2 separate regions of the Homo sapiens genome follow, and region 1 is linked to region 2. Evidence: fine-mapped expression QTL. Tissue or cell type: whole blood. Region 2 holds a variant in brackets; the other region holds the start of a gene. All regions are shown on one strand. Distances are from middle to middle.

Region 1 (5,147 bases), 210 kb before region 2:
TTTTTAACAAGAAACCACAGCAAAAGAAACCTCTCAAAGTTTCTGTTCCAGCTTTCACCTTTCTTAGTTACTAAAATGTAAAATATTTTGTCTGAGGGTAAACTTGTAGTATAATTGGACACTGATAATAAAAGTAGCATGCTGCAAGTTGATAGAAATTTTTATGTATTTGCATTCGAACATCTTCAAACTGCCTTCATACGTTTTGTAATGTTTTTTGTGTGTGATGCATGTGTGTGCCTTTCTAAAGTAGTGTTGTAACTTACTCTGCCATTGGAACCCTGTTTAAAATAGCAGATACCATAAGCTATCAGTCGCCACACAAATTTGAATGAGTTTTAAAATATCAAAATATGTGCTATTTTACTAGGCTCATTATCAGTAATAATTCAGTGTGTAGCAACTGGGCAAAATTCATATTTTAGCTTCTCAATTAAATAGAAAAGCTTTAAAGAGGGACAATTCAGCAAACAGAAGTGTAAAGATTTTCTAAATCTGAATTAATATCCTTCTCTTAGTTCTTCAAGGGAAACAAGCTTGAGCAGCTGTTACCTAAGACGCTGTGACATTCGCCTGACAATAAAACCGTTCCCTAGGACACCTCCTGTCACACATACACTTGGTTGGCTTTACAAAATGTGAGTCCTCTCCCTTACCTGTCTGAATGAAGTAAGGAAAAGGGCCGGGTGTTAAGGAAAAAGGGGGTTGGGGGATGTCAAATCCAAAATAAGATTTCTCATCTGAGAACAACATGGTTATGTATATTTTAATTAGGGGGTGAAACAAGTAAAAAAAAAAAACTGTTAAAGGATTCCAAACTTAATGAACGACATAAACAATTTTATATTAACATATAATACCCCTCTAAAGAAGTCAATGAAGCTAAAGGAAAACTTTTAAACATTTGTCTCTTTTAAATAAAAAGAAAAAAAACCCTGAAAAAATAAACAGAAAAGCAGAGATCCACAAACAAACTATTCTTGTTCACTCCAGAAGTTGGGATCTTAGGATGGATATTTTCATCTTCACAGCACACCCTAGCACACTCATATCAGAATAGACTGCTATAAAAAGGGGGAGGGATGGGAGCTGCCAGGGTGAGACATGCCTTCTGCTGAGCTGAGCAACTACCCCCAACCCCCATCGGCCAAGCAGCCCAGACGCTCTCAGGTGGACGGTCCTTCAGGGGCGGAGCGAAGCCCAAAGCCCACTTCACTCTTGTCAGGGACTAGTCTCTAACTACAAAAAGCTACTGTGAACACTTAGGGCCTCAGGAATCCTGGTGACTACAACTTCTAGCCTCTTTACACACATTATGGATATTTCTTAACATACATTGGGAAATCAAAAAGCGTATTTCATGAACAAAGCTTGAAAACATGTACTCTCTACCCTAAGCCCAACTGAGGCTGCCCAATTCGATTCAAATAAAAACTGCTGTGGTCTGAGGCTGGCTGTCTCACTCTGCTGACTGTCCTCCCCATTCAGTGTCTGTGAAAACTTACTTTCTACCTCCTGAAACGACTCGGCTTGCAAGCAAAAAGTTATTCCAATGCAAACTATACCTGATATTTTCGTGAAACTTAGAAACTAAACCTAAAACTCGACTCCCATCGCAATCTATTACTACCACTTCTGCTAAAGGTAACTTATAGCCAAGAAAACAAAACAAAATACGATTTTCTGTCCATGTAGTGGCCCTGTGACGACACCCCCTCTCTTACTGGTACAAAGTCTAGGGCTTGGGACAGCTGGCTCCCCTCAGCCCCCTCCCTTTCAGTCATAGGCGGTTACCACGAAGATGACTTGTAGATTTCTAACTTAAAAACCAACGAGACGTTAAGTTTAATATACATGTAGATCCCAAATCAATTCATTTGGGCATGGACGAAAGAAAAGAGGGTGGAGAGGAAGGTTTTCAACATTATTAAAAAAAACACCGGGAAATTCACAAAAACGCACTACAGTAAGTTGGATGCAAACCCGGCCACGGAACTCAAAAGTGAAGCAGCCTTCGCGCCAGCAATCCGAGCCTTAAAAAAAGTCTCGCACGTTCACAACAACACAACCGCCACAACGCGCACACACATCCCAGCTGTAGAGGCGACAGCTCCAGGCGCCCCCGCCCGCCGCTCGGCTCTCCGAGCTCCCGACCCCCTCCTGACCCCGGCCCTGCCCCCCAGCGGCTCAGCCCGCAGGCGCCGGGGGTCCGAGAGCGCGGGGCCCGGACCGGGGCCGCGGGAGGGAGCGCTCCTCCCGTACCTGCTCCGTCCCCGGCTCCCTCCCGCGGCGGCGCCCGGCCCCTCCTCCGCCCTCCGGGCTCTCCCAGCCCTGGCCGAGTCCCAACACCGGCCCCCCATCCACCCGGAGCCCCCCGCGCCCGCGGATCCCCTCCAGCCCGACGCCGGGAGAACTTACCACATGCAGCTCCACCTGGGAACTAACGCATCAGGAGGGGTTTCCGCCCACTCCTCAGCTACTCCCGCTCCATGCGGAGTGCCCCGCTCCAGGGGCCCGAGGGTGGCGCCGGGGAGCGGGCAGCAGGCGAGGCTGAAGCTAAGACTCCGCCGTTCTCTGCCTGCGCGCCCCGAGCATTATACAATGGTGGAGGCGGCGGCGGCAGGCAGCGGAGGAGGAAGCAGGAGGCGGGCGGAGGGGGCGCCCTGACCGAGCGAGCGGTACGTCGTGCTCCAGCACTCGCCGTGCAGGAGTGACGTGCGGCCCGCGAGCCTCCCGCGAGCTCCGGGCCCCGGCGCCGCAGGCCCCGCCCCTGGCCGCCCGACCCCGCCCCCGCCGGCCCCGCCCCGGCCCGCCTCTCCCCGGCGGTCCCGGGAGGCGCGATAAAGGCCGGGGCCGGCCGCGGCCGGCCGCGGCCGCAGGAGGAGCAGGAAGGGGCGGCGGGGCGCAGTGGGCGCCTGGTGGCAGCGCCGCCCCCAGCTCCCTGCCGGGCCGGCGCGCCCCTGATTTTCTCGTAAGGACGGGCTGAAAGAGGAGGGGAGACAGAAGGAGACACTCCGGCCCGAGGACCACCACTGCCACTAGTAACGCCCCCTACACACTCTAGAAGTGCTCAGGCGAATGACGAAGCGGCTGGTGACAAAGGCGGCGGCGAGTGCAGCGCGTGCACAGCCCGCGGAGCCGCGCGACCGCAAATATGACAAGCATTTGAGCTATTTGGCAACGTGGGGCCGGTCAGCGGGGCGGGCAGGGTCCCCGCGGGGGGCGAGGGGCAGAGAGCTGGCCCGGGCGCCCGTCTCGCTGCCTGCAGGGGTTCCTGGGCGGGGGTCCGCTGCGGGACACTCCTCCGAGGCCCGCACTGGTCCGAACGGCAGGATGGGGGCTCCAGCCGTGAGCCGGGGACAGAAAAAGTCCCTTGCCCGCGTGGCCTCAGCCCGACACGAGAAGTGGGTCACCAAGTCCACGGCACTTTGGGAGCCGGACCGAACGAGTTGCATCCTTCGGGGCCGGCCGGGGCTCGGTGCAGACCCGGCAGGAGGGAAGCCAAGCTAGGAGACGCAGCCAGGTCGGAGGCGCAGTCCTCTGCCCACAAGTTTCACATTGATAGCCTTTCCCTCCCGTGGAGTAAGCTTATGCTTGGAACTACTTAAATTTACCAGGGAAATTTATACTAGTTGGAAGAGAATGTGTGTATGCCCAAATGGTGAGAATTTAAGAGCACTAGGGAAAGAGGCCAGATAGATGGTTCCACTGGAAAATTAATGATTATTTTAAAAATTACACGTGCATTCAGCGTCAAGATGTAAAAGGCAATGCAGGCAGGCACCTTAAAATTTTGGCTGCCACCCCAATCAATATCATTTCAGATCACTTTGGAGTTTAATGGTCCACTATACTAGTTGTATTTAAGAATAATAAAGCTTTAAGACCTAACATAAAGGCGATTGTAAGTCGTTAACATCAAGAGAAATTTAGACTTGTTTAAACTGTTCTGTAATGATTTGTTATCAATCAAATTGATGATCTCATCGAAATTAAACTTGTGCTGAAATGTTGATAGAGGAGACAACGCTTCTTGTTTTATCTTTAAGGAGGATGGAAAAGGTTTTTACTGGACCCTCAGTATAATTAAAGTCTTATACAGTATAACCTAAGCCAAAAGCTAATTATTTGTGGATATCTTTGCAAAGTCTCATTATAATGGCATTCAAAATGACATATTATGGAAGCTGTGCTCACCGGCCCTCTGCAGGTCTTGCTCAGTTTGCGCCTGAGTGGCATAACATTCAAACATTTTGCTGTGAAGCGAAGATATTTTTCATTTCCAGAGTTCTGCAGTTTAGAGAGGGCATTAACTACTAACAGTTTCCTAACCACCCACTCACTTATACTTTCAGTGCTCACTTTAAGGAAAAGCCATTGAAATAGAAGCTGCAATAATCTCTTCCTGTGATATCTTTGTAGAGGAGGCCAGAGGCATTAGCTCTGTTGAATTTAAGGTGAATTTAAACTGCTATTTGTGAATTTAAACTGCTATTCTTGAATTAAAGTAAGCAGGAAGTTACACTTGCAGAACTTTTGTGACACTTGGATATTTTCTAGCAAATAGATTACACCAAATGCAGTGTTTCTGTATAAAATAACAGGATTTAAGTCAAAGTGACAATTTTGTGTCACTAGGATAGACAGGATTCTGCTGAAGTCCATAAGGTCTGTATTCTGTACCTGCTCAAACAAAGGTTTGCGCTCTTAACGAGACCAGCAACCTGCGTTTTTGGAGTGAAATAGTTTCCATCTCTTTATACCTCTGAAGGCTGTAACATCTTATCAATGTACACATTACAAATAGCTCCCACTTCCCCCACTTTTAGAATCTGGCATCTTTGACCAAGAAGTTAAAGTGAGCTGGCAGTTTCAACAGCTGCCAATGTGGTTAACACCAGCTGGTTAACCCTCTCCCTCCCCTTATGCAACCCCCTACCCCAAGGCTGAGCCACACATAGGCCAGGACAGCAATCTCTACCCAGCCCTAGAAATTCAAGTCTATGAGGATAAGGAAAGGCACTTTCCACACTTCTGAAGTCAGCTCCCTTCAGTATGCAATGACATGATTTGAAATATTTATTCAATAAAATATTATTTCAAATCATGTCATTGAATAAGCAGTGTTTAGTGAATATGTAAATTTT
Region 2 (5,147 bases):
CAAAGTGGGTGGATCACATGAGGTCAGGAGTTCGAGACCAGCTTGACCAACATGGTGAAACCCTGTCTCTACTAAAAATAGAAAAATTAGCTGGGCATGGTGGCATGGGCCTGTAGTCCCAGCTACTTGGGAGGCTGAGGCAGGAGAATCACTTGAACCCAGGAGGCGGAGGTTGCAGTGAGCTCAGATCGAGCCACTGTACTCCAGCCTGGGCAACAGAGCGAGACTCTGTGTCAAAAATAAATTAATTAATTTAAAATTAAAATTTTAAAATGTTTTATAAGTAAAAGTAAATATAGTATGACCCCATCTTTTAAAAACATAATTCTTGTAAATCAGAGGGGAGACCATAGGGTCCAATCCCTCTATAGACTTAATGCACAGTTTAGTGCTCAAAATTAATACAGAATAAATTCCATTATTTGATCACGTATTTGGAAGAACATTAAAAGACTCTGGGTCATAGTCGTGTTAGCTCATCTCAGAAGCCCCTTCCTCCACATCTGATTATTTAGAGAGCCTCAAATGTGCTAATCTCTGAAAACTCTGTTGAATTCCCTTCCATAAGGCTTTTCCCTGTCTGGACGTCTTCCTTAGCCCATTCCATTCCTTCATCATGCAGATCAGCTTAGCTCCTCTCAGCAAGTAATAATTGTTCCTCTCCCTAGAAGAGAGAAGTGAAGGAAACCAAATAGACAAATTCAAGATTTTCTTCAGTAGACAGGGGCAGGAAGAATGCTAAGAGCATGACCATGTTAACAATTTTAGCTCACATAAAAACATATGTCTGTATGCACAGAAAATAGTATGGGAAAAATATACAAAAATGTTATCAGGGCTATCACTGGTGGCGTGGTGACAGGTGATTTTTGTTCCCTTCTTTATTTTTTTTGTCTGAATTTCTTTTTATAGAGCATGTTCTACTTTTATATTCAGAGTTTTTTTTTAAGTCATCATACTTCAGCATATTTCTTTTTCTTCTTTCTTTTCTCAAGATCTAGCAAAGGATAAAGAGAATTCAGTTGCAAAATCCAATCCTCAACACAGGATGATTTATCTTTTTTTCTTTAATTTTAGAACTTTAAAAAAGTAACCCCCTTCCACACATACCAGCATGAATAAAAGACTATTCCTTTGTAGGTTTATGAATTCACTCATAACACGCAACTGTGCAAATTCATTTAAAATTAAGTAGCCTGAGCACGTGGTTAAGGACTGAGTTTGCTCCAGGGGCCAAGGTCAGTCCCTCCACAGTAGGAACAGCTTTTCTGCAAACAGTTTCCCTGCAAACTCCCCTTCCTCACAGAGAAGCTGGCCCAGGCACCATGCAGCCTGGCCACTGAGGTGTTGGTGACCCCACGCTGCCACACTGGCGTTTCCATAACCCCCTTGTGTGAGCCTCCAATGGCCGGAGGGGCCTTGGCTGTGGGTGTGAAGACAGTGGGGGCCCCTGCTCTGCAGACTTGCGGTGCGAAAACTCTGGGGTCTGAGCAGGGTAAAAATCACTCTGCTGCCTGCTTTCCTCTTCCTGCTGGGTTCCTCCCAAGCTGCTCTCCCATCTCCCCTGGGACCTCTCTGGCCAGCTCAGCTTTTGTGTTTGGGCCAGGCGGGAAGAAGCACTTGGCCCGACTCCTTGCTTGTCAGAAGTCCAGCATTACCAGGGGTCTTGCCTGGTTTCAAGTATTTCCCGGTGCCTTTCCTCGCTCTGTAGTCAAGTTTCTAGCCAGGATTTCTTGGCTCTGGGAAAGATTGAATGCCTGTCTGAGCCTTCTGGGCCTGTGTTTCATTTGCAGCTGCCTGGCCCTACACTGGGTGACAGTCTCAGCCCTCCCCAGGGCAGCCCGTCCCCTCCTGCTTGGCCAGCAGAGGAGGCCCTTTGTGTCGCTGTCTTGGTGCTGGAGTGGAAGTGAGGCTTCTAATTATCGTCCCCAGCCCCGTGTCCTGGGTTTACTTCGGCTCCAGCCCAGCGTCAGGGGCAGCACTCCCTTCTGAGAGCAAGCAATTCCTGCCTGTCTGTGAGACCAAGCAGACAAGAATGCCAACCGCCAGCAGCCCCAGCCCCTAACTGTTTCTAAGTCAGACTAGGACCTGTTCAGAACCTGGCACTTTCCTGCTAGAAATTTCCAGCTGCTCTGATCTTTCCTGTAGGGCTTGGCAAGGCCAAAAAGGTCTGGAACCAAAAGAATTCATAAGAACATCAGGCCTGGGCCGGTGGGCACCTCTCCCTCTGTCTGCTCAGGGACTCCCCAGTCACTTCCTACTGTTGGATTCATCCAGGGTGAGGGCCTGGTGGGGCTGCCAGGCCCTGAAGTCCAAGCTCAGGGAAGCGAGAGCAGTTTACCTCTGTGACATTGCTGGTGTGAGCCAAGGCTGCGGGTTCCAGGAGCTAACTTGGGATTCCGTTCAGGACATGACACAGAAGTGAAGAACTCAGGGAACTTCATATGTCCCCATCACCATAGGTGACCTGTGCCCTGCCATCATGGGGGGTGACGGGAGGCTATGAATGTTAACATAATGCAGACTGACAAAGACATCCTCTTTTGTCTTCCTTCCTCTTTGAGACTAGAATGTATTTTCTGAGCTCTCCTTTGCTTTGCTTTTCTTTTGGGTACCATGACCCAAGGTACAGTATAAATACGTCAGTATTTGTAGCCTGTAGAAGGTCACTCAAGAATGTGCATTTGTAACCATCTGGGGAGAAAATAGGCTTTGTCAGTGAGTGTTTCCTCTGGTACACTTATTACACTCTAGCAAGTATCATGTACGGGAGATGAAACAGGCAGCTGAAAGGTGTCCCGCCTGTGCACCTTCCTGCTGGCCCAGCGTCTATTTCCAGCCTCCTCTCCCAGGGTTGCTGAAACCCGGAGCTGATTTCTACATTGGAAGTTAGGAGCTGCAGGAAACGCCTCGTGCCGTGCCGGGGACGTGGAGGAAAGCCAAGTGCCCTTGATAGGCTCCTCCTCTGGAGCTAGGGAGTTCCCTGGATGGTGGCAGGAGGAGCTGCGGTTCTGCAGCTGCTGCGGGCGGGGCAGCTGCTGGCGGCACTGTGTCTTGGGTTTGACCTTGACCCCTGGGCAACACAGGGAGACTTTCAC[A/G]CCCTTCACCCTTGCATCACTCCACTCAGAGGTGCGCAGGGCCCAGCCCCAGCTACAGATGAGGAGACTGAGGCTCGGAGGCTCTCGGACCGCCCAAGGTCTCTGGGCAGATCAAACGGTGGAGAGAGGCCAGAGCCAAGTGTCTTGGCTCCCGGGCTGGGAGAGGCCCCGGCGTGGCCCTCTGGAGGCCGCCGTCTGCGACTGCCCGGGCGCCCTGGGGCGGCAGCCTGGCCTCCTGGGCTCGAGGCAGGGGGCAGAGGTGTCCCGGCGGGGCCGGGGCCGGGACACGAAGAGGGAGGCGAGCAGGGGCTAGGAACTGGAGCCGGTTTGTGCTCGCGCGCCTGCAGGCCCTTTGCCTCGGGCACCCCCGCTCCAGCCCAGCGGGGGCGGCGCCGAGAGGGGCCCATGGCCCAGACGGAGGCTCGGGCTGCGTCCATTGGCGGCCGCAGCCCCGGGGCGGGAGGGGGAGCGGCCCGGCGTCGGGTTACCGGGGACCAGCACGGCAGCTGGCCCCGGGAGGCAGCCGCGGGGTGAGGGTGCATTCTTGGATTCCTGGCCGGGAAGGGAAACCAAACCGCACTTGTATCCAACGCAATCAACAAACATGATGTGTCAAGTGCTGTATTGCACTTGAGCGGGTGTAAAATGGTAGAGCTGGGGTTCCTGCCCAAACGTTCGTCTAATTGAGGAAATAAGAAATCCACAGAGAAGAAGAACGCTGGAGATACCGGGAAGGACATAATAAACCCCGAGAACCACGACCAACCGAATTTAGAGGGGTTCCTGGAAAGGGAAGTCTGTTTTTCCCCAAAGTCTTCTGGAAAGCTTCCACAACAGGGCGAGGTGAGGGTATCCGACCTGCCACCTCCCTCCAGGGCCTGCCACCTGCCCCAGCCGCCCCCACTCACCACAGCACACATGCCCGACCCCACACTGCTGAGCACCCAGCAGCCAACCCTGCCTCCACCCTGCCTGCGCTCCCCAGTCTTACCCCAGGCCTCTACTCTCAAGCTCCTCCAAAACTAGGACCCTCACTTTCTTCTTCCAGAAGCCCACCTGCCCCCAGGACACTGCTGCCCTATAGCCCTCTCCAGTAGAGGCTCTTTTCTCCCTCCAGCTATGCAGCTCAGGGCCTGAAGATGTACTCCGCATTGATCACTGAAGTTTCTAAACGGTTTCTCCTTCCTCTTTCAAAAGCCCGGCCTCTTAGCACAGCGAAACTACTAGATGTGATACTATAATGGTGGATAAATGTCATAATACATTTGTTCAAACCTACAGAATGTACAACAGCAAAAGTAATGTAAAGTAAGAATAAAGCATTCACATCAATGTAAACTGTGGACTCGGGGTGATAATGTGTCACTTAGGTTCATCAATTGTAACAAATGCTGGTGGGGAATGTTGATAGTGGGGGACACTGCTCCCAGGAGGGTGGATATATAGAACTCTGGATTTTCCACTCAATTTTGCTGTGAATCTGAAACTACTCTAAAAAGTATTAAAAATTAAAAATATTTAATTAAAAAAGCCACAAATCACCCCTCCTAATGTCATCTGTCACCCTCCTAGTCACTTCCCCCAACCCTTGATTATTTTAGTATCAGGCTCTATCTCCTTTCATATCATCATTTTTGGTGACTTCAGCATCTATGCTGATGACCCACCCAACACTCCGATCTCTAAGACTGTTAATATCCTTAGCCCTAGCAGAATATTCCTCCTGCCCTGCCTCAGCCTCCTGGTCATATGCTAGATCTTGGAACCATGAATGTCTACACCATCTCTAAACTCTCAGATCCAGAGATCCCTTCACCTATCAGTCCTCCAGGTCACTTACTTTAGTTCTTGGACTCAGCAATTTTCCCATCTCAGACCTCTATTCCATGACTCTCCTGTTTTCTCATGACATCTCTCCCCTCAGGCCTTCGTTCTCAGCCAGCTGAGAACTGAAACTCCATGCTCCAGCACACAAAATCTCCCTGGCAAACACTCCTACCTTCCTTGCTCTGGTCTCTCTCCATTGTATTCACTGGGCGAAAACCCAGC

What was found. PIP is the estimated chance that this variant, and not a neighbour inherited with it, causes the effect.
Region 1: SERTAD2 starts here. The variant in region 2 is fine-mapped to the expression of SERTAD2 in whole blood (TOPMed, PIP 0.98).

What each region holds. Positions count from the first base shown.
Region 1 is chr2:64,651,202-64,656,348 of GRCh38, forward strand. SERTAD2 (SERTA domain containing 2) reads right to left here and starts at 2,712. Exons shown (of 2, transcript NM_014755.3): 1 at 2,419-2,712. It overlaps LOC124907776, which reads left to right and starts at 2,870. Exons shown (of 1, transcript XM_047446580.1): 1 at 2,870-4,022. The coding sequence starts at 3,079. The coding sequence ends at 3,510. RefSeq lists silencers at 1,676-1,755, 2,056-2,385, 2,494-2,788, 2,526-3,345 and an enhancer at 4,127-4,286.
Region 2 is chr2:64,856,421-64,861,567 of GRCh38, forward strand. The region is part of intron 1 of LINC01800 (long intergenic non-protein coding RNA 1800); the gene reads right to left. Among named protein-coding and RNA genes, the nearest start is that of LINC01800, 4.6 kb to the right of the region's middle. RefSeq lists silencers at 2,875-3,169, 3,207-3,726, 3,486-3,689 and an enhancer at 4,017-4,236. The variant A/G (reference allele first, on the strand shown) is at 3,099.